Regions from separate parts of the Homo sapiens genome. Here region 2 is linked to region 1. The links come from fine-mapping of genetic effects on gene expression. A gene starts in region 1. The other region holds a variant in brackets. All regions are shown on one strand. Distances are from middle to middle. Region 1 holds the start of NFE2L2 (NFE2 like bZIP transcription factor 2). Region 2 overlaps NFE2L2 (NFE2 like bZIP transcription factor 2).

What was found. PIP is the estimated chance that this variant, and not a neighbour inherited with it, causes the effect.
Region 2: its variant is fine-mapped to the expression of NFE2L2 in whole blood (TOPMed, PIP 0.98).

What each region holds. Positions count from the first base shown.
Region 1 is chr2:177,259,613-177,270,580 of GRCh38, forward strand. It overlaps NFE2L2 (NFE2 like bZIP transcription factor 2), which reads right to left and starts at 5,115. Exons shown (of 5, transcript NM_006164.5): 1 at 4,920-5,115. The coding sequence starts at 4,964. RefSeq lists an enhancer at 3,089-4,288 and silencers at 3,969-4,128, 4,389-5,258.
Region 2 is chr2:177,225,577-177,236,544 of GRCh38, forward strand. It overlaps NFE2L2 (NFE2 like bZIP transcription factor 2), which reads right to left. Exons shown (of 5, transcript NM_006164.5): 2 at 8,429-8,695; 3 at 7,674-7,763; 4 at 6,816-7,007; 5 at 4,732-6,432. The coding sequence ends at 5,209. It also overlaps the pseudogene DNAJC19P5. Among named protein-coding and RNA genes, the nearest start is that of HNRNPA3, 18 kb to the left of the region's middle. The variant T/C (reference allele first, on the strand shown) is at 5,121.

The sequences.
Region 1 (10,968 bases):
CATGTCTAGGGTATAGTCTGGTACAAGAAATCCATCTAGGCCAGGCGCGGTGGCTTAAGCTTGTAATCCCAGCACTTTGGGAGGCTGAGGCAGGCGGATCATGAGGTCAGGAGATCGAGATCATCCTGGCTAACACAGTGAAACCCCATCTCTACTAAAAATACAAAAAATTAGCCAGGCGTGGTGGCGGGTGCCTGTAGTACCAGCTACTCGGGAGGCTGGGGCAGGAGAATGGCGTGAACCCGGGAGGTGGAGCTTGCAGTGAGCGGAGATCATGCCACTGCACTCCAGCCTGGGCGACAGAGCAAGACTGCGTCTCAAAAAAAAAAGCCATCTGTATTTCTCCAAGTTTCTGAATGTTAATATTTAATATTATACACTTGAACATATTTTTGCTTTCATTTACAGAAAACATACCATTAGCAATTGAATAAATCTTGGCCTATACCTTAAAGCCCTTTTAATAAATGTTTGTTGGCGCTTATTTAAAAGCAGGTAGCAGTGAAATTTCAATAGCTCCTAGAAATTAGATGATCAAAGAATAAACTCTATTCTCTATTTGTGGCAAACTTATAATGAATATACATTTCTACAGTCAGAGATGAAGACAAGCAGGTTAAAAATGACATCTAGTAAACTTGTCCTCCTCTACCCTGCTGTGCAACATATTTCAGTCAACTTTCAGAAAGTGGCTGGACCAAGCATTTAAATGCCCTGAGGTTGACCTGGACCAACTTTTAGGCAAATCATCCATCAGATCCTATAAGTCCTGCAGCACACTTAATTCAGACAAATAAGACAATAATTCCAAAAACAACTTAACAATAAGGACTAAGAAAGTGTTTAATTTTGAGATGTACTATTCTCAAAGACCCAAGTAAGCTTCAACTAGATAAGAGTTGAGCCCTTATGCTTGCTATAGTTCAGAAGTGCCAAAACATGAGATTAGGGTTGAATTTGCGCCATCAGCTTTCTGCTAGCTGTTTTCAACTCAAATTTTCCCCATTCTGCTCTCTTTCCTTCAGCCTGGTTTAACCCTGTCTGTCACACTCTTCACCATATTCTTACTACCAAACTTATTTTTGAGCACTACTTCAAAACAAAAAGAGCCAATGGAACAGAAGAAATGTACCAAGTAGCAAGGCAAACAAAGGCAAAGACTCCAGTAGCTAAGAGATTTAATTAAGAAAAAAGGCAGTTTCTGAAAAATGTGAGGCAGAATCTTGGACATTGCCAAACATCAGAAATTTTTAAAACTATTATTATATTAAGAAACAGACTGGCGCAGTGGCTCACACCTGTAATCCCAACACTTTGGGAGGCCGAGGCGGGTGGATCACCTGAGGTCAGGAGTTCGAGACCAGCCCAGCCTGGCCAACATGGTAAAACCCCATCTCTACTAAAAATACAAAAATTAGCCGGGCAGTGGGTGCCTATAATCCCAGCTACTCGGGAGGCTGAAGCAGGAGAATCACTTGAACCCGGGAAGTAGAGGCTGCAGTGAGCCAAGATCAGGCCACTGCATTCCAGCCTGGGCAACAGAACAAGACTTCATCTCAAAAAAAAAAAAAAACAAAAAACAAAAAACAGTCCTGCCTTTCTAAATTGAATCCACCGAGGCCTCTGTGTCTTCCTTAAAAGGACCACAGTGGGTACCATTGATGGATTGTATTCACTCTCCCTGTATTTAACAAGGTCCACCTCCCCACGTCACATACAGTGATTAAATGTCTTGCTAAATGGAAAAGCTGCAGACATTAATCTTTTATATTCCGGCCTCTCCTTCCCCCAGAATAGGCAAATCTCAACTTACCCACTTTTTAAAGTGTGAGCTTTTCTTCCTATTTAGAGTTTAAGGAGTTTTGGTACAGTCTGGAAGTGGTGATTAGAAGCCCCCAGGAGTCAAACCTGTTTGAATGCTACCTTGGCCACTCAATAGTATGGTCACCTTAGCAGGTCCTGGCCTTTCTCTATGCCTCTCTCCTAACCTTTCCTAACCTAATGCCTGATCTAACTATTATGCCTGGTTTTCCCAACCTGGAAACCAGGGATAATAATATTTCCCGTGAGGTTACTGTAAAATTATGCATGTGAAGCAATTATGTCTGGCACCCAGGGACGTGCCCAGTAACTTATCTATTATTATCTTAGTGCCAAATTCTTCCTGCATACTGAAAAGTTAACCCAGGCTTGAGGAACAGTTAAGGAGGAAATATTGACACAAAACCCCCTTTAAATGTCTTCAGTCAGGACAGAGGAAATTCCCAGAAAAAAAAATGTACTTGTTGGGTTCCTTTTTTTCATGCAGCTTTGTTAAACATGATTTATCCTCAATAAAAACAAATATTAAGAAAAATGATGCATTTGGCTTTCAACTTTTCCTGGTAATCCTAAAGACAGAGTCAGTTTTCCCCCCAACATTGCTTATAAGAACCCAGGGCAAGAAAGAAAGATTTCAAAATGGCCCAAGTTATTTTTAATGCGTAAAAGACTGATGTGAGTTATGCATTTATCCTCCTACATGCTGCTTCCACAACCTCTCAAGAGATTTTTCACATATCTAAAAAGTCAAGTTGTTCTTTGCTTAACATTCATTCAGGAGATGAGAGGCCTGTCCTATTTTTCTTTTGTTTGACTTAAAAATAATCTCATCGGTCTATTTCAATATCAACTTCATCCCTCATCTAGGAAAGTGCTTTATCTCTCCAAGACACCCTTGAAAAGAGTAATGGATGGTTCCTTCCACCTAATGGAGATACTGAATCTAAGGCTCTCCTTACTGCCCTGTTTATCAACACATCCTCTGCACAGAAGGTGAAAAACTATATCCTACTACCACTTCACACCTGGAGAGTTTTTTTTGACAAAAGGTCAAGAAAATGTTTGACTCTGTTCAAATCTTTATGGATGACAACAATCTAATATGAATCATAAACAAAATCAATTCTAAATTTTCTTGTTCTTTTTCTGTTTTCAAATATGCAAATCGATGTCTGATTACAAAGGTAGAAAAGCAGTTATTTTTATCAAACGTAATTGGAAAATACACACTTAATGCGGTACATATGTTTCACGCATTTTTGTATAAGGAATGTTATATTACACAGCAAAGAAAGAAAAATTCAAAAATAATAGAGGGCTGTAGACAATTCCGGAAATCAGAAAAACTAAAGTTCATTTTTATCATATATCCTTCAGTCAAACAAGCATTCCTATAGATAACTCTTGAACAGCAGCTATTAAATAAATCGGAAGGTACAATTTAATTCTTCACTAGTTGGAACCAGAAGAATACAATCCCAATGAAGACTGGGGAAAAGTTCAAGACAAACAACTTTAAAGGGGGAAAAAAGCACAATTAATACATTGTCCATAACTTAAAACTTTACAATAGATCTTTGGAATTAACCGAAAACTTTACATTTAACAGCATAAACGTATTTACTGTACATCAAGTACACATTTCCTTGAATTCCAATTTTTTTCCTAAAATTCATTTACAAAAGAAGTTAGAAATATAAATATCTACTTTTAAAGTTTCTACAAAGGATGAGCAGAAACTTCTTTTCACTTTTATAACAATTCACAGAAATTAGCAAGTGTTTTGAAACGCAAGCGTTCCACTCTCTGCCCCTGCAGAAGAGGGGGAACATGTTAAGAAATTGAGGCAAATTCTCAACTGAAAAGGAAACATATATAAAGTACTCAGGGGAGAAATAATAGCTGAAAGCAAAAAATTACTAACAGACTAAAAGCAACAGAAATTCTAATCTACACTCGCAACTCTTACCCTTGACAGCACAGAAGAGAATATCCCGTCTTACACATTTTGGAATTGCAATTCTGAAACGCTAAATCCAAAGACAAAGCCGCTCTGGGGAAAATAGCAATTGCGCAACAGATCAACAGCTCCAACCTGTCCCTTGGCCCTGGCGCGGCGAGGTTTGCACGCTATAAAGCAGGAAAGGGCCAACCGAGGGCTGCTGTGACGGCCAACCGAGCGCTGTCACGGAAGCCAAGGCCACGCGCGCGGTGAGCGCCACCAGGGGGCACCGCGTCCGAACTAGAAGCCCCGGGTGCCGCCGACTCCGGCCTCAGAGTCCACTGCCCTCGCCCGCACTTTCCCGCGGCGTTACGAGGGGCCAACTCCGGGTGCCCGAGCCCGAACCCCTCCCCGGCCGAGAAAGTGCGCGGGGCCCGGCTCAGCCGCCACACGTCGGGGCTTCTGAGCCCGCTGGGCACTTAAGGCGCTCCTCCCTCGTCCCGGGGCTGGGCTTTCAAGAGAGCTCAAGGCTGCCAGAGAGTGATCCGAGAGATGGATGACTTCGCAAAGCCGCGCCCACAGACGGCCCAGCGGGGTGAGCGCGTCGCAGCCCGCACTCAAGGAGGTCTTGGGGCGCGGCGAAGGGGCTCCGGGTCCCAGCCCGAAGGCGACCTCAGTTCCCCCGAGAGCGGCCCCGTGACTAGGCACATTTTTGCCGGCACCGAGGCGGGGGAGCCGCGCAGCCCCGGAAGGGCCGGGCCGCGCCGGCTCAGACGGCCAGCGTCCGCCCCCTCTTGCCCCGCCGCCCACCGGGCCGCTCAAACTTAGGGGCTCCGGAGTCCCAGCTCTCGGGCCCGGGGACGCGGCTGGATTCTCCCCCAAGGCCCACGCGAGCGGGCTCAGTCCCCAGACCTTCCCGCAACTTCCCACCCGTTCGCCCTCGGGCTCGTGGTCGGTCGGATCACCCGGCCGCGTCCCCGCTGCCCCTCCCCGCCCTGCCCCGGCGCAAGCGCGGCGGCTCTACCCAGCGCCGCGGTCCTGGCTCTGGCCAGACGTGGGGGAAGCCGGTTGCGGCTGTCCCTCCCGGGCCGCGGTTCCCTAGCTCCCCCGCCCCCGTCCCGGCACCACCGCAGGGCCCAGAGGGCCGAGGCAGCACCTGCTGGGACGGGAGTCCCGGCGGCGGCAGCTCCAAGTCCATCATGATGAGCTGTGGACCGTGTGTTGGGGCTCCCCGACGGCGGCCCTGTTCCGGCTGCCGAGGCGCGGCGCGGACAGGGCGGCTCTGGTGGCGGCGGCGGCGGCGGTGGCGGCTGCGTCGGCGGCTCCTCCGGGCTCCCCGGCACTCGGTAATCGGCTACACGCCGGCGGGCCCCTGCCCCGCTCCGCCTCCCGCCCCACAAGGGCGGGGCAAGAGTCCGGGCCCTTCCTTCCCCCGCCGGCCGCGCGGGCTGAGCTTCCGAAAATCCCCCACCCGCGCCGGGGCTGACGCAAGAAGCTCGCGGTCCGGGGGCGGGAAGGGACTGCCAGCTGGGGTCCCAGCAGGCGGGGGACCTAGAGGAGGTCTCCGTTAGCTCCCCGGTGCCGGCGTTCAGTTTGCCCTCCCCCGCAAATAAGGGCAGCGCTCTCGCCCGCGAGATAAAGAGTTGTTTGCGAAGGTCGCTGGAGTTCGGACGCTTTGAAACAGTTTAAACAGTTGGAACAAACACACCCGGAGCCCCGGAAAGGCGTTGGTGTAGGAGCTGCGCCTCCCTGATTTGGAGTTGCAGAACCTTGCCCTGCTTTTATCTCACTTTACCGCCCGAGAATGGCGCCAGCCGGGGTGGGGGGGGCTAAAGATTTGGACCCAGACCGTGCCACTGCCAACTGCCCTCCCGCCCTTGCTCCCTTCCCGGGCTGGGGCCAGTGGGCCCTGCCTAGGGGAGATGTGGACAGCTCCGGCAGCTCGTGTTCGCAGTCACCCTGAACGCCCTCCTCTGAACTCCCACGTGTCTCCATTCTCCTAAGCTCAGGTCGTCAAAGGCAAACGGAGAAGCCCCTTTAGGTCGGAGAGTGGTCAGTATTGCCCACCCAGAGCTGGGAGAAAAACGGGAACCCCAAGAGAACCTCTTCCCACCAAAGCGCAGCCACCACGCCACAGATGGCGCCCTTCAACAGTGTGTAATACCACAACATGCTGTAATCGTTTACTCTTTACAAATTTCTTTTTCACGTACTCACAAAATAGTACAAATTAAAAAAAGTTACAAAAACGTTTGTATAGTATTGGCTCATTTTATAAAAACGTGCCTAGAAAAAAATTGAAGGTTACCAATATATTAAATGCTGTGGAATCAACGATTTTTATGTTTCTCCTTGTTACTTCCAAGTATGCTTTAAATCTGCAGTGCGTATGTTTTATGTCTTACATTAAAAACAATTATTTAAAAATTAATCATTGCCCAGAGAAGACTTCAAGTATTTGAAACGAGGAATATTGTGAACTCTTATAAGGGTTCAAAGAGGATAGATAAATGGTTTAGTTTTGTTTTTTTCTTCCTCTTCTGCATTTACAATCTTTCTAACTCTATACAAGACTGGTTTTCAGTTTCTAGCTTCCTGGAATTATTCAAAACCAGGTGAAGTAGATAATACTGGCAGTGGTTTTGCTATTTCATTCAAAAACCACACACACACCCCTGACTATAGCAATCAACGCCCAAAAAGCTGCAGAGCTTACTTTCTCTAGGTTGCATAATTTGACACTCCCAGGATTTATGTGTAAATTTGTATATTCAGATATTCCTTGAGATAAGTGAAGCCTAAATTAATTACTTGTAATTGAAGCAAGCTTCTTTAACTCCTATTAATTCCTTTCAGCTGTTATGTGAAAACCCTGCAACATGATCTGCACAATGAAAACAAGTTAGGAGAAAACTGTTTGCAAAGGACCTCACATGAAAGATGCAGAGACATAATAATAAAATAACATTTCTGAGTCCAAGAAAAAGACAAGAGTAAATTGTTAACAATTCAAGTTACTTATTAAAATTACGACATCAGAGAAGGTAGACAATGAGCCTAGTAGGTAGGAGATACCAGAGTCATATGACATGGTTACTGCTCTAAAGGAGTTTATAAAGTATTTGGTATTTCCTTGTTAAGCCACAAAATTTCCATTGAGTTTAGACTGAATGAAATAACCTTCACTTTTCCAATGCTGCAATTTGCTGAGAGTGTGTTATTTCAGGCATCTGCAGAGTACATATTTTCAAAGGGAGGGGAGCAATATGATAAGAGTTTGAACTTGTTTAAGAAAAACAAACACTAAGGAAAAGCTGTTTGGCATTTGGTTTAGCCAAATAAAGGGAACCCCATTCTCAAGACCACCCACGTCAAGGAGGTGCCCAATCTTGGCAGACTCTGGAATGTGATTGTCTTCATATGAGAGCCTGAGCCCTTGCTTTGCCCTCCAAACCTGCCTATTGTGTTAGGAGGGCACAGATAATGCATGTTGAGAAGCTCTGGAGGAGCAAGAAAGAACAAGAAAGAGGAGGTGCTGGTTTTTCTCTCCTGTCTTGCTGCCATGGGATCCTTTTTTGCTGCCAGGCTCTCCTCGCTACTATTTGGGAAAAATACCCTCCAATTGGTTTTATGTTCTATTGACTCTTGTACCTTTTCATTGATTCCTGAATCATTTGCTGTCTTTGGGAAGACGGCCTTCCCTACATGCTTGAGATGTGTCAATTGTGATACCTTGCTCCAGATTGCTCATAAAAAATAAGCATCATTGGCCAGGTGCTCTGGCTAACGCCTATAATCCCAGCACTTTGGGAGGCCGAGGCTGGCGGATCACGAGGTCAAGAGATCAAAACCATCCTGGCCAACGTGGTGAAACCCTGTCTCTACTAAAAAATACAAAAATTAGCTGGTTGTGGTGGCATGCGCCTGTAGTCCCAGCTACTCAGGGAGGCTGAGGCAGGAGAATTGCTTGAACCCAGGAGGCGGAGGTTGCAGTGAGCCGAGATCACGCCACTGCACTCCAGCCTGGCGACAGAGTGAGACTCTGTCTAAAAAAAAAGTATCATCAAGTAAGTCTTCTGGGTATAAGAAGTCTGGATAATGGTGATGCATTGACCCCTTAGTTCCACCTCCTTTGTGCTCCAATCTGCCAAGTTGCAAGGTGCAAGAAAGTACCGATTGTTTCAAAATCCTCCATCACTTTGAGGCTTCTTCCTCTCTCTGTCACTTCCTCTCAATTGTTCTCCATGTTTGAGCCAGAAAATATTCATAATCTTTTAGAATTGTAGTTGAAATTCTACTTTGTCCAGTGTAAAGTATAGAAAGCTTCCAAAGATGGCACCCAGTAAACCACCTCTCCTGATATTGAGGCATTTGTCTAGTCCCCTCATATTGAAACAAGCATGGCTGGCCCTGCAACTTGCTTTAAGGTATGGAAAGAGGCCAGAAGTGACATTATGCCAGGTTTTAACCTAAGCTTGAAAAAGCCCTGACAGCTTTTAATTTTATACTCTTGGAAGTCAGCCATCATCCTAAGAGGTCTGACTACCTTGATGGAAAGAGAGGCCATGGGAAAAGTCATGGAAGATGAAACTCTAAATGGAGAGAGAGAGACTATGTGAACCAACACACCAGACATGTGAATGAAGAAACCATCTTGGACCTTCGAGCCCACCTATTCAAGCCCCCAAAGAACTCCAGCTCCAGCTGCTATATGACTGCAGTCACATACAAGAGACTGTAAGCAAGACCGGCAGAAGACTCCCTGGCTAAGCTAAGTCAACACCAAGAACTGTGAGAAATTATAATAAATCACTTTCAGCTATTAAATTTGGGGGTGGTTTGTTTCATAGCAATTGATAACCAAAACAGCATACTGTATGTATGGTGACTATCAAAGGCAGGGTTTCCCCTGGCTGCTCTTTGTTTGTTAACCAACATTGGGAGCACAAACAGGGAGATGATACTTGGTGATTTAATAAAACTCAGACTCTCAGAAGAAAATGACTTCCCTGGGAATGAGGAAGCTGTCTTTCCCATAACATATCTTTGTTGCTACATACAAAGTAAAAAACCTCATCACACCATGCATAAGTTTCATTTTATTAGACGATGGAGAGATAGTCTCCTTATCAAAATACACTTCACGAACACAGACATTTTATCAATGAAGTAGATGGAGGGATAAATGCATACAGAGGTTCTGACCGTGATATGACCTCATTTGTGCCAGTTATGTAAGATACTCGCTGAATATCTGCTTAGGGAGTTTGAACTTGAGCAACCTGCCCAGTGGATAAACTAAACTCCAGTATAGGCCAGGCGCGGTGGCTCACACCTATAATCCCAGGGAGGCCAAGGTGGGCGGATCACCTGAGGTCGGGAGTTTGAGATCAGCCTGACCAACATGGAGAAACCCTGTCTCTACTAAAAATACAAAATTAGCTTGGCATGGTGGTGCATGCCTGTAATGCTAGCTACTCAGGAGGCTGAGGCAGGAGAATTGCTTGAATCCGGGAGGCGGAGGTTGCAGTGAGCCGAGATCGCGCCATTGTACTCCAGCCTGGGCAACAAGAGCGAAACTCCATCTCGAAAAATAAATAAGTAAATAAAATAACAAACTCCAGTAAAGCAGTGTTCAAAATATTTGGTGTATTAATTTCAAAACACACCCGCATCCTTGGTTCCCTGGGGTGTACACCTCACTGTGCAAACTACTGGTACAATGAGCTGTACATCTCCAAAGCCAGTTTTAACTTGTGTAGTTTCCTGCTCATAAAGAAAAAGTATCCTGCAGCAACAGCAATGCAGTGAGTAAAGAGAAAAATGTTTAAAAGAGTCCTTTGAATTTTATGTGTTGATACCTATATAAATATATATGCACAGAAAAAAAAGACAGAATGCATATACTCCAAAATGTTAACCGTAATTATTTTGACTAGATGGAGACTGATGACTTTTTTTTCTCATTTTTCCATGTTTACATTGTTCTAAATAAATAAACATACTTTTTTTTTTTTGAGACAGGGTCTCGCTCTGTTACCCAGGCTGGAATGCAGTGGTGCTATCATGGCTTATTGCAGCCTAGACCTCCTGGGATCAAGTAATCTTCCCACTTCAGCCTCCTGAGTAGCTGGGATGACAAGCATGCACCACCATGCCCTGCTAATTTTAAAATTTTTTGTAGAGGGGGTAGTCTCACTATGTTGCCCAGGCTGGTCTCAAACTCCTGGCCTCAAGCAGTCCTCCTGCCTCAGCCTCCCCAAGTGCTGGGATTACAGGCATGAGCCATTGTGACTGGCCAGCATACATTACTTTTATAAGAAGAAGAAAAAAGGTGGGAGTAGGGTGTGGGAGTAAGGAAAGAACGTTGCTTTTCTCCCATGCCACTGGATCTGTTTTATTTTCAAATTGAATTATAACCACAAGCTTTGTAAATCTTTCCATTTTGTATTTATTTGAGTGGAGCCTGGAGAATTTTACCACATCTTTAAGTGTAGTTGTTGTAAGGTTCTAAAGATCCTTTCTCTTCCAATTTACTGCTATATTTGCAACGTTTAACTCAGCAGAACAGGAATTACCAAAGACAAAATTTTATGAATAGAGATTAAGAACTGCAGCCTCTCAGTAACAGGCAAAGTAGCCCAAACGTAACATCGCTTTGTGGGGAAAATAAAATACAGAAAAACATTATGCCTAGAGCTATGTCTTCAAGGACAGTTCTCAAATATTAATAATGGGAGTAGAATATCAGATAATTTTCATTTCCATCTTTGTATTTTTCTGTATTATTCAAATCCTTACAGAAAGCATTTTTAGAATTAAGGGATAAAAACAATTAAACTATTTCCACTTTGAACAAACAAAAAGCAGACTACAACGAATGGAAGAGCAGAGCATCCTCATAAACAGACCTTACAGATAATCTATAACATTCTTGGAGGCTGGAAAATAAAAAAGGGAAATGAGATTTGCCAACATAATTGTCTCCTGACACTTTCTATTCCATGGACTCTCATTTTGCCCTTTGAGTAATATTAGAATTAAAAAAAAACCTTAGACGTCTTCTGGCCCGGAGATGGGAAGCAAATTTCACTTTGATTGCCAATTCTGATACATTGGTAGTGGCTGCCTACAGTGCTTTGCTGAAAAGTATTCAAAAACAGCTTCCCAATTTGGTAGAAAAAGTTCAATGATTGATTAACAAT
Region 2 (10,968 bases), 34 kb before region 1:
ATTGTATTACTATGATGTTCAGTAAATGCTGAGTGAACTTACATTCTTTAAAATACATCAAAAGAGGCTGGGTGCAGTGGCTCACACCTATAATCCTAGCACTTTGGGAGGCCGAGGCGGGTGGATCACGAGGTCAGGAGCTCGAGACCATCCTGGCTAACCCGGTGAAACCGCGTCTCTACTAAAAATACAAAAATTAGCTGAGCGTGGTGGTGGGCACCTGTAGTCCCAGCTACTTGGGAGGCTGAGGCAGGAGAATGGCGTGAACTCAGGAGGTGGAGCTTGCAGTGAGCCAAGATCACACCACTGCACTCCAGCCGGGCAACAGAGCAAGACTCCATCTCAAAAAAAAAAAAAAAAAACATATATATGTATCAAAAGAATTCTGATGGTTTGTCTATTTGAAGTCAGTGGTCTTATTTCTCTCAATAGGTACTGAAAGAAAACTTAATTTGTAGGTTTTTGTTACTCTGATTCTTGTGTCAGATTTTGTTTATCAGTAAGAAATGTAAATACAGAATGTAAAAGCAGTTTTGTGAGCTTGGGCAGGTTACTTGGTTCCTTTTTAATCCCGTGCGCTCTGGCAGATTGGTGTGCCAGCAGGCCCCTTGAATGTTGATTTTTTACATGGTGTGAGATACAAGTGAGATTACTCAAATGTTTCATGAAAATAATTACCAGAATAATAAGTTTATGACTTAATGTACTTGAAACACTAAATTAGGTCTGATGGTGGGTCTGATTTCTAACATTGAAGTTGTGATGTATAAGTGATAATGTGGTTTAAATTGTACTTTAAGACAAGTACAGTGAAATGCCAGTGGTTCATTGCCTGGAATATTGAAGGAAATGTTATGTGTTAGTAAAAATGAAGAAACTTTCTTCCCATCAAAATTGTCAGACCTAAAATCTATACAGGTTAAGAACTCCTGTTTTTAACCTGATTTCCTCCCCCCCACCTCCACACATGCACACACACACTTTTTTTTTGGTAAAATGGATTTATAATTCCCTCCCTTCAGTAAATCAGAAGGTTAAATTCAATAGCTTAAAGAACTTAGTACCTGTCTTATGGACCCTAAAGATAGTGTCTTGGTAATGCTGGATACTGTCTTACAAGGATATCCTGAAGCATACCTAAAATTTTAATGGGTGATAAAAGTTATGTCAATGTCTTAAGCGTTTCTCCCCCACCCCCCAACATAGGATTGAAGTTTTCTTTTGTTTTTTGTTTTTTTGAGACGGAGTCTCGCTCTGTCTCCCAGGCTGGAATGCAGTGGCGCGATCTCTGCTTACTGCAAGCTCCACCTCCCGGGTCCACGCCATTCTCCTGCCTCAGCTTTCCGAGTAGTTGGGACTACAGGCGCCCGCCACCACGCCCGGCTAATTTTTTGTATTTTTAGTAGAGACAGGGTTTCACCGTGTTGAACAGGGTCTCGATCTCCTGACCTCGTGATCCACCCGCCTCAGCCTCCCACCTGGGATTACAGGCGTGAGCCACCACACCCGGCCCTGAAGTTTTCTAGTCTTTAATTTTTTTCAAGTTCTCAAGTGTCAAAACAGCATCAACTGAAAACAAAGTGCCCTGGTAGCTATCATCTTTAAATTGGAATGAGAATTATCTTGTATATATTCTGAGGCTTAGTCACAAATATAGATATGGCAAACATATTTGAGCAGCGCTCCCCTCAAAAACAGGAACTTGGGAAATCTTGGCAAGAAGAAAGGTTTTTATACAAAGTTGTGCAATTACAGTTTGATAGTCAAATTTGAGGACAGTCAGGTATAAAGCTCTCAATTCAAATGCAGATCAAGAGAAATGAACACTTGGTTTTATTAGTCATGGCATAGTTGAGATTTGTTATTTGAAATTTGTAATTTCTCACAATAATTTTTTATTCTTCACTGTAATATTTTTAGGTACCATAAGTTTCTATGGCCAGTTCCCTCGTATGAATTGGTCAGAATACGTTGAAGTTTACTACCAAAGAATGTCTGTTTTTGTCTGCCCAGCAATGCTCTTCCCCCTTCAAATATCAGTCAATGTTAGGTGCTCCAGATAGCTGCTGCTGAGATTCTTGCCACCATCTCTGCACTCACAATTTGGTCTAAGAATAGACAGTTTGTTCAAGACCTGGGATTATGTTCTGAGTTTGGAAAAGTGATGTCTTCTCCCGAGATTCCCCATCACCACACCATCAGAGGAAGGAAGTTCCTTGATAGCACGTGAAAAATATTCAGGACCCCAAATCTTCACACTTGGCTTGGTGTGGTGGCTCCCGTGTAATCCTAGCACTTTGGGAGGCCAAGGCAGGCAGATCACTTGAGGTCAGGAGTTCCATACCACCCTGGTCAACATGGTGAAACCCTGTCTCCACTAAAAATGCAAAAAAAAAAAAAAAAAAAAAAAAAATTTAACCAGGTGGGTGGCAGGTACTTGTAATCCCAGCTACTTGGGAGGCTGAGGCAGGAGAATCACTTGAACCTGGGAAGTGCGGGTTGCAGTGAGCCAAGATTGTGCCACTGCACTCCATCGTGGGTGACAGAGTGGGACTCCATCTCAAGAAAAAAAAAAAATCTTCACATTTGAACCCTTAGATTCATTAGTCCTTGAAGTCATTTTCAATCCTGAACTTTAACAGTGAAATTCTCTAGTAAGCTAATTTGACTGGATTCACTTGTAGCCAAAAAGCATAATACAAGACCAAAGGAAATTGACAAAACACCCATCATTTATGCAATGTTTACTATGAGCTAGGCGCAGTGCTTTTTGTGGGGTGACCCACTGAGTACCACTCTGCTTTATAGATGAGAAAATATGCTTAAGAGGAGGCAGGAGAATGGCGTGAACCCGGGAGGTGGAGCTTGCAGTGAGCCGAGACAGCGCCAATGCACTCCAGCCTGGGTGACAGAGCGAGACTCTGTCTCAAAAAAAAAAAAAAAAAAAAGTGCTAAAGTGAGTTGCTAAACGCCATTCTAGGAATTAGCAGCAAGCCCATGCAGTGTTGCTAGGAGTCTTCACTGAATAGTTACACATGCAGTGCTTATTTTAAACATACTTAATGAATCTCCATTTCCTCACTTTAAAAAGGCAAAACAATATGAACAAGTGAAACCTGCTTAGGTGAAGAAATAATCGATAACTGAATGGCTCGTTGGAAAGCATGCAGATTTTCAAAGGGTTTTGAGGGGACTTGTTTTTGTACACTCTAGTTAACGTCTAATAGATCTCTCGGTATGTCCAAAAAGGAACTGATTTTCCCACGTGGGTCTCCCTCTATCCAGTCTTCTCCATCCTCAGACAACTCAATTCTTAAAGATGTTAAACTTCTTGACTCACATCCATTCTACCAGAAAATCCTTTTAGTTCTCTGAGACATGGCAGAATCCAATGTCCCTGACTACCCCTCTTCTATCACTCTAGACCAAGCTGCCATCATAATGCATGAACCTCTCAATTGGTTTTCTACTCCCATCCTTACCCTCTATACTGTTCTCAACACACAAGCCAGAGGAAATGTTAAAAGTTGTAGCTCTGAGGCATTTTATAGAAAGTTGATACTCATACACATAAAAAGTAGTAGGAACCTAAAATTCATCATACATTGATTTCATTTTTGAGCTTGACGTAGTAAATCCTTAGCTTCATTGATTTGGGTTGCTATATAAGGAGATCCTTCTTTGGGCGATTTAAGATCATATTTGTTACTGAGCATCTCTTATTTTTCCTTTAATGGCAGTAAGGCTTAGAGGTAGTATTGCTGCTTCCCATTTTGTCCTTTTTAGTTCAAGCCCACCTCTCTAATAGCCACCGCTGAAGGCAGATTTTGGTAGACTTTGAAAATCCTGTTTTACTTCAGGCTATATGTGCTTCCTGACTTGCAAAACCTGCAGCAGAAATGGCCAGTCCAGCTGCCACCACTGTACTGACCGTGGCTGCAGCTCAGCTTCTTTCACCTCCATCTGGATTGGTACAGCCACCTGCCACTAACTACACTCCTTTACCAGAAAGCTAGGCAGCCACTGCCAGCAGTCACAAACCCCAGAGGGAACTTTAAAAAAACAGTTGAGTGTTACTCCTGAACAGCACCATTAGCGCCCCACCTCACTTACGTAGACTTACGAGGCTCTGTCATATTCCACCCCCATCCCTTTCTTCAGCCACATTGTCCTTGTTTTTTCTCAAATGTGGTTCAGCCTTTGGACCTGCTGTGTCTTGTCTGCAGTGTTCTTGGCTATGAGAACAGCTTCTCCCACACCTTCAAATGTTGCCACTTCAGTAAGGCTCTTCCCATTTACAGCCTTAAGTTGTGACGCTTTTTACTGGTTTTCCCCGTCCAGTTCCTTCTAACATAGTGGAGTATGCTTGTTACCTCCCCTTCGCTAGAATGCAAGTTCCAGGCCAGGCAGGGATATTGGTTTTGTCCTTTCTACTTCAAACTCTGCCTAGGGTATAGTGGGCGTATGTCTACTGATGGAAATAAATGAATCAGTGCTTTCATGTCAGTGTGTAACATTTTCTTGGGTTTAGATGTACCTGCTATTGAAGAGGCAAAGTATCCTCTTGATATACTTTATTTCTCTGTAACCCTGGTACTAGAAATGTAGTATAAAATTATTTTTATATTTTCAAATAAAACATTCTGAAAATGCAAAACATCTAAATTAAATGGATGATTATCTTATGGAAAATACTGTGTGAATAAACTCAAAGGAATCCCAAACAAATAATTTAACAGTCATAATAATCCTTTATTAGTACCAGCTCTTAAAATTTTTTTTTTTTGCCAGAGCTAAACAATTTAATATAAAAAATGCCATTTTTTGTCCATACAGTATTTATAAAAAAGTACATAGTGGTTAGTTTTGCAATAATTTCTTTTTAGCCAGATGTCATATCATCATATAAATCTATGAATATAACAAATGACATAAGAACAGTATAAATAAGTTTTTGTAGTATTTACACTTACACAGAAACTAGCCCAAATGGTGTCCTAAGAAATTGTTTACAGTTAAAGTGAAACTACTGATTCAACATACTGACACTCCAATGCTTTTTAAAGTTTCGTATTATTTTCTATACTAGTTTTGGCTATGATTTTGCATAGAATTACTTA[T/C]AAAGTATGAGCATTTCACATCACAGTAGGAGCTTTTAGTATAATAGTACAAAAAAACTAGCTCAGAAAAGGTCAAATCCTCCTAAATCTAGTTTTTCTTAACATCTGGCTTCTTACTTTTGGGAACAAGGAAAACATTGCCATCTCTTGTTTGCTGCAGGGAGTATTCACTAGGAGAATAAGGTTTTCCATCTTCATCACGTAGCATGCTGAAAACTTCGAGATATAAGGTGCTGAGTTGTTTTTTCAGTAGGTGAAGGCTTTTGTCATTTTCTCCTTTTTCTTTGAGCAATTTTTCTTTTTCATCTTTCAAATGATCTAAATCTTGCTCTAGTTCTACTATATTTTCCAGTTTTCTTTTTCTGCAATTCTGAGCAGCCACTTTATTCTTACCCCTCCTACGTATATCCCGAATTAATGCAAGTTGAGCTTCATTGAACTGCTCTTTGGACATCATTTCGTTGAAGTCAACAACAGGGAGGTTAATGATTTTTTCTACAGGGAATGGGATATGGAGAGCTTTTGCCCTAAGTTCATCTCTTGTGAGATGAGCCTCCAAGCGGCTTGAATGTTTGTCTTTTGTGAATGGGGTTTTCCGATGACCAGGACTTACAGGCAATTCTTTCTCTGGTGTGTTCTCACATTGGGCATCATGCACGTGAGTGCTCTGCCCCTGAGATGGTGACAAGGGTTGTACCATATCCCCAGAAGAATGTACTGGTGTTTTAGGACCATTCTGTTTGACACTTCCAGGGGCACTATCTAGCTCTTCCACTTCAGAATCACTGAGGCCAAGTAGTGTGTCTCCATAGCTGGAAGATTCCACTGAGTGTTCTGGTGATGCCACACTGGGACTTGTGTTTAGTGAAATGCCGGAGTCAGAATCATTGAATTCTGCTGTGCTTTCAGGGTGGTTTTGGTTGAAAGCTTTGCAAAGTGATAGATCAGAAACATCAATGGGCCCATTTAGAAGTTCAGAGAGTGAATGGCTTAAAGTAGCAGGTGAGGGCATGCTGTTGCTGATACTGGGCTCAGCTATGAAAGCAGAATAAAATTCATCACCAAAATCTGTGTTGACTGTGGCATCTGAATTTAATGAGTTCACTGTCAACTGGTTGGGGTCTTCTGTGGAGAGGATGCTGCTGAAGGAATCCTCAAAAGCATTAAGAAAATGTGGACTACAGTTACCTACTTCTTTTTCCATTGAGGGTATAGATGAGTAAAAATGATAATTGTCAACTTCTGTCAGTTTGGCTTCTGGACTTGGAACCATGGTAGTCTCAACCAGCTTGTCATTTTCAATATTAAGACACTGCATGAGAAGGAAGTTTATACTATATAAATCAAAGTTAATCCATGATAATACGTGATAAATTTAGATAAACTCCCTACCCACATTATCTTCAGGCTTATCTCTATAATTTATTATCTATAATTCAGAGATAATTCTCATTTCCAATACATATTTACGCCTAAGCGTTATGTATTATTTTCAGAGTTCCCAGATCAGACGTCAGGTTTATAACATTCTATCCTCAAGATGTCCAACCAATTTAACTAGCATGGGCAGTACTCATGACTAAGTTAATAGCACCCTCCAATCCTTCCTATAAATAGGTGGTATATAAATAATCAGAATGACTAAAGGCACTGAATATAAAAAAAATCTCCAGTATTACATTCTATTTTAGTTACCTGTAACTCAGGAATGGATAATAGCTCCTCCCAAACTTGCTCAATGTCCTGTTGCATACCGTCTAAATCAACAGGGGCTACCTGAGCAACAGAAGTTTCAGGTGACTGAGCCTGATTAGTAGCAATGAAGACTGGGCTCTCGATGTGACCGGGAATATCAGGAACAAGTGACTGAAACGTAGCCGAAGAAACCTAAAATTGATAAGGCATTGATTTATGAGTCTTCCACCAACAGGGGATGAGTAAGCTCTAAGGCACCACTACAAAACAAAATGGAATCAGCTGCAGTTCTGTGTCTCTCTACTTACTAACCAGTCATGACCCCGTTTGTAAATAACAAATCTTTTTTTCCTACCCCACTGACTCAAATTTATAATTTGCTGGTCTGTTTCAGCTTAAGCATTTGAAAGTAAACTTTAAAATGCGTAAGTACAATCTTTAGGATTTAGTTTATATAATATCTAGCACAGTGGTACTAGATAAAACAGATTTATTAAAATTGTTAACTGAACAAGTCTTCGTTTATTGCCCAGCTGGCTCTTTACTCACCAAACCTCTTAGATACTTGCAGCAAATGGGTTATTTGTTTCCATGGTTATGCTGTCCATGTTTCTGGCTATGCAATAGTCAATGGTTTTGGTTTTGTATTGTGTGAAGGGTTTTTTTTTTTCTTAATTGTAAAGTTATTTATAGGCTAAGGTTTCCTTGACAAGAGTATTTCCTTGGTTAAAAAATTTCCTCCTAAAAATGTTTTTATTCTTTTAAATGGAGATTCATTGACGGGACTTACATAGAATAGATTGTTATTTTATAGTTATGATGGAGTTTTTCTATTAACCAGGTTATTTTATACCTCACCTCATTGTCATCTACAAACGGGAATGTCTGCGCCAAAAGCTGCATGCAGTCATCAAAGTACAAAGCATCTGATTTGGGAATGTGGGCAACCTGATAAAAGGGAATGACACAAAGGAAAACAAAAATGGTTAAATATTCCATTGCCAAGCTAAATATTCAATAATTGATGTTCATAAAATATTTATAATCAAGTTAAGTAAATATTTATCTTATTTCAGAGATCACTTTGATGCACAATTTGAACTAGACCACATGGGTTCAGATCTTAGCTCCTCCAATTTTCTGAGTGATCTGGGCAAATTATTTAACCTTTGTGAGCTTCAGTTGCTCATCGTAGATAAAACAGGGATAATGGTAACTAATTAATATAGTTGTGTTAATTAAATCAGTCAGTATATGTTCTTAAAACAGTGCTTGCCACACACAGTAACGCCAGTAATCCCTGCTACTTGGTTCTCCTGCTACTACTTCTGTTGCTGCTACTTGATCCTTACAGGATGTTTCTATACTTTACAAAACTCTTTGGTGTAACTTAAGTCTTCCCAATCCTCACAATAACACTGTTAAGATCAATAGGTTGGGTACTGAACTCAGGTTAGGTACTGAACTCATCAGGAGGCTGAGGTTGGAAAGTAGATTTGACAAGGTTAAGTAAAAGAAAGGCAAAGCTGGAACTCAAATCCAGATATTTTAATTCCTTGCTCAGTGTTTCCTTAAACCTGCCATAACTTTCCCAAGAACTGAGTACTCTGTACCTGGGAGTAGTTGGCAGATCCACTGGTTTCTGACTGGATGTGCTGGGCTGGCTGAATTGGGAGAAATTCACCTGTCTCTTCATCTAGTTGTAACTGAGCGAAAAAGGCTTTCTCTTGCTCCTTTTGGAGTTGTTCTTGTCTTTCCTTTTCAAGTTTTTTCTGTTTTTCCAGCTCATACTCTTTCCGTCGCTGACTGAAGTCAAATACTTCTCGACTTACTCCAAGATCTATATCTTGCCTCCAAAGTATGTCAATCAAATCCATGTCCTATGTTTAAGACAAAAAAAGGAAGGAGAGAGCTCATGTTTTTTAAATGACAGATACCACATAAATTAATTCACATTATGCCACTGTTGATGGTGGGAAGTGGGGAGATTACAAATACAATCTAAATGAGAACACAGATCCAATGTTCTAGAAGAGCACAGTTAATTCCATTCAATGAATCTATTCATTAAAGACAACAAACAACCTACAAACACATAGCCATCCATTCTAATCACTTGGATCATTAATGATAGGGTGATGGTAGAGGTCACTAAAGGGCAAAGTCACAAATGGTTTGAATGAGAAGAAATCCCACCCTTGTTTAATGGAATATAGAAATTAGAGCAAGCACTCTAAGCCACTGGCTTATATAAGAGAAGTGGGGTCTGGAAAACATTACTGAATACATGGAGTTTTCTTTAAACTTTGCTCAGCAAATATCCAGTTTATAGAGGGATAACTCTCAAGTTAAAGTGTCAATCTAGCAGTTGTGAAATATCACCATTCTTTCCATCTTTCCTACACTAGATTATCTTCTCCCCATCACTGCTTGCTACTCTTATCTCTGTGGCTTACCTATATGCCTGTAATCCCAGCACTTTGGGAGGCCAAGGTGGGTGGATCACCTGAGGTCTGGAGTTCGAGATCAGCCTGGCCAACATGGTGAAACCACGTCTCTACTAAAAATACAAAAATCAGCCGGGTGTGGTGGTACGTGCCTGTAATCCCAGCTACTCAGGAGGCTGAGGCAGGAGAATCGGCTTGAACCTGGGAGGCAGAGGTTGCAGTCAGCTGAGATCGCACCACTGCACTCCAGCCTGGGCAACAGAGCAAGACTCCATCTCAAAAAAAAATAAAATAAAAGCAGACAGGGACAGGTGCGGTGGCTCACGCCTACAAGCCCAGCACTTTGGGAGGCTGAGGCAGGTGGATTGCTTGAGCCCAGGAGTTCGCGACCAGCCTGGGCAACATGGAGAGACCCTGTTTCTACCAAAACAAAAACAAACAACAACAACAACAACTGGTGTGGTGGCGCACACCTGTGGTCCCAGCTACTCAGGAGGCTGAGGTAGGAGGATCACTTCAGTCCAGGAGGTCATGGCAGCAGTGAGCTATGATCGTGTCACTGCACTCCAGCCCGGGCAACAAAGTGAGACCCTGTCTCATAAATAAATAAATAAATAAATAAAACTATGGCTCCAGGGAAGGATTAAAGGTATTAAGTTTTAAGACATAGGAAGAATCTTACAAAGAGGGAATGGTTTTGATGAGGAGAGGCTGAGCTTGGTGACTCAGGCCTGTAATCCCAGGAGTTTGGGAGGCCAAGGCAGGAGGATTGCTGGAGCACAGGAGTTACTAGCCTGGGCACCATAGTGACACCTGTTTCTACCCAAAATCAAAACAAATTAGTTGCACGTGGTGATACGAGCCTGTAGTCCCAACTATTAGGGAGACTGAAGTGAGAGGATTGCTTGAGCCCAGGAAGTCAAGGCCATGGTGAGCTGTGATTGTACCACTGCACTCCAGCTTGGGTGACAAGACCCTGTTTCACACACACAAAAAGATACATGGGGAGAGAATTTATATGACTAGGCTAGGCATAGGAACCACATCCAGATTTTCCTAACCAAAAATGTGTCAATAGCAGTTTTTCTGATTTGTAATTTTAGTCTTTGGAAAAATCTAAATAGGTAGGAAATCTAAATCTGTTTCCATTCCACAAATCACCTATAGGGGAAATAATTAATTTGAGAATGGAAAAAAATCAAGATGGGGGAACGGGAGTTGGGACTTGAAGGCCAGTGGGTACAGTGTAGACACGTCACACTTTGCATTTCATTCTGCTGACAGCTGGCAACGCCAGACTTAGAGTTCTATTACTTTCAGCTTCCCAAGGACGCAAATAACATGGTGGTTGTTTCAGTGAGGAGTCAGGCTATTTTTATCCAACAGAGGAGCAGGCCACCCAGCCTGGAGGCAGCGCAGCTAGCTAGATGGCACAGGCCACCTGTGTCCATGATTGAAGGTTGGCGTTGGAATCTTAAATGCTATGAAACCCTGCTCATGGGGCTCATTATTCTAGCCTTGAACAATATATATTGTAAAGCACACAAAGTAGGCATAGTTAAAGTAGCACTTGTAGTTAGGTATACCTCACTAGGACATACCTAATTATCTTTAAGCCAGTATCTATTAAGGGCTTCCTATATGCTATGCACTGTTCTAAGTACTTTACATATAGAAACTATTCCTCAAAACAGCCTTATACAGAG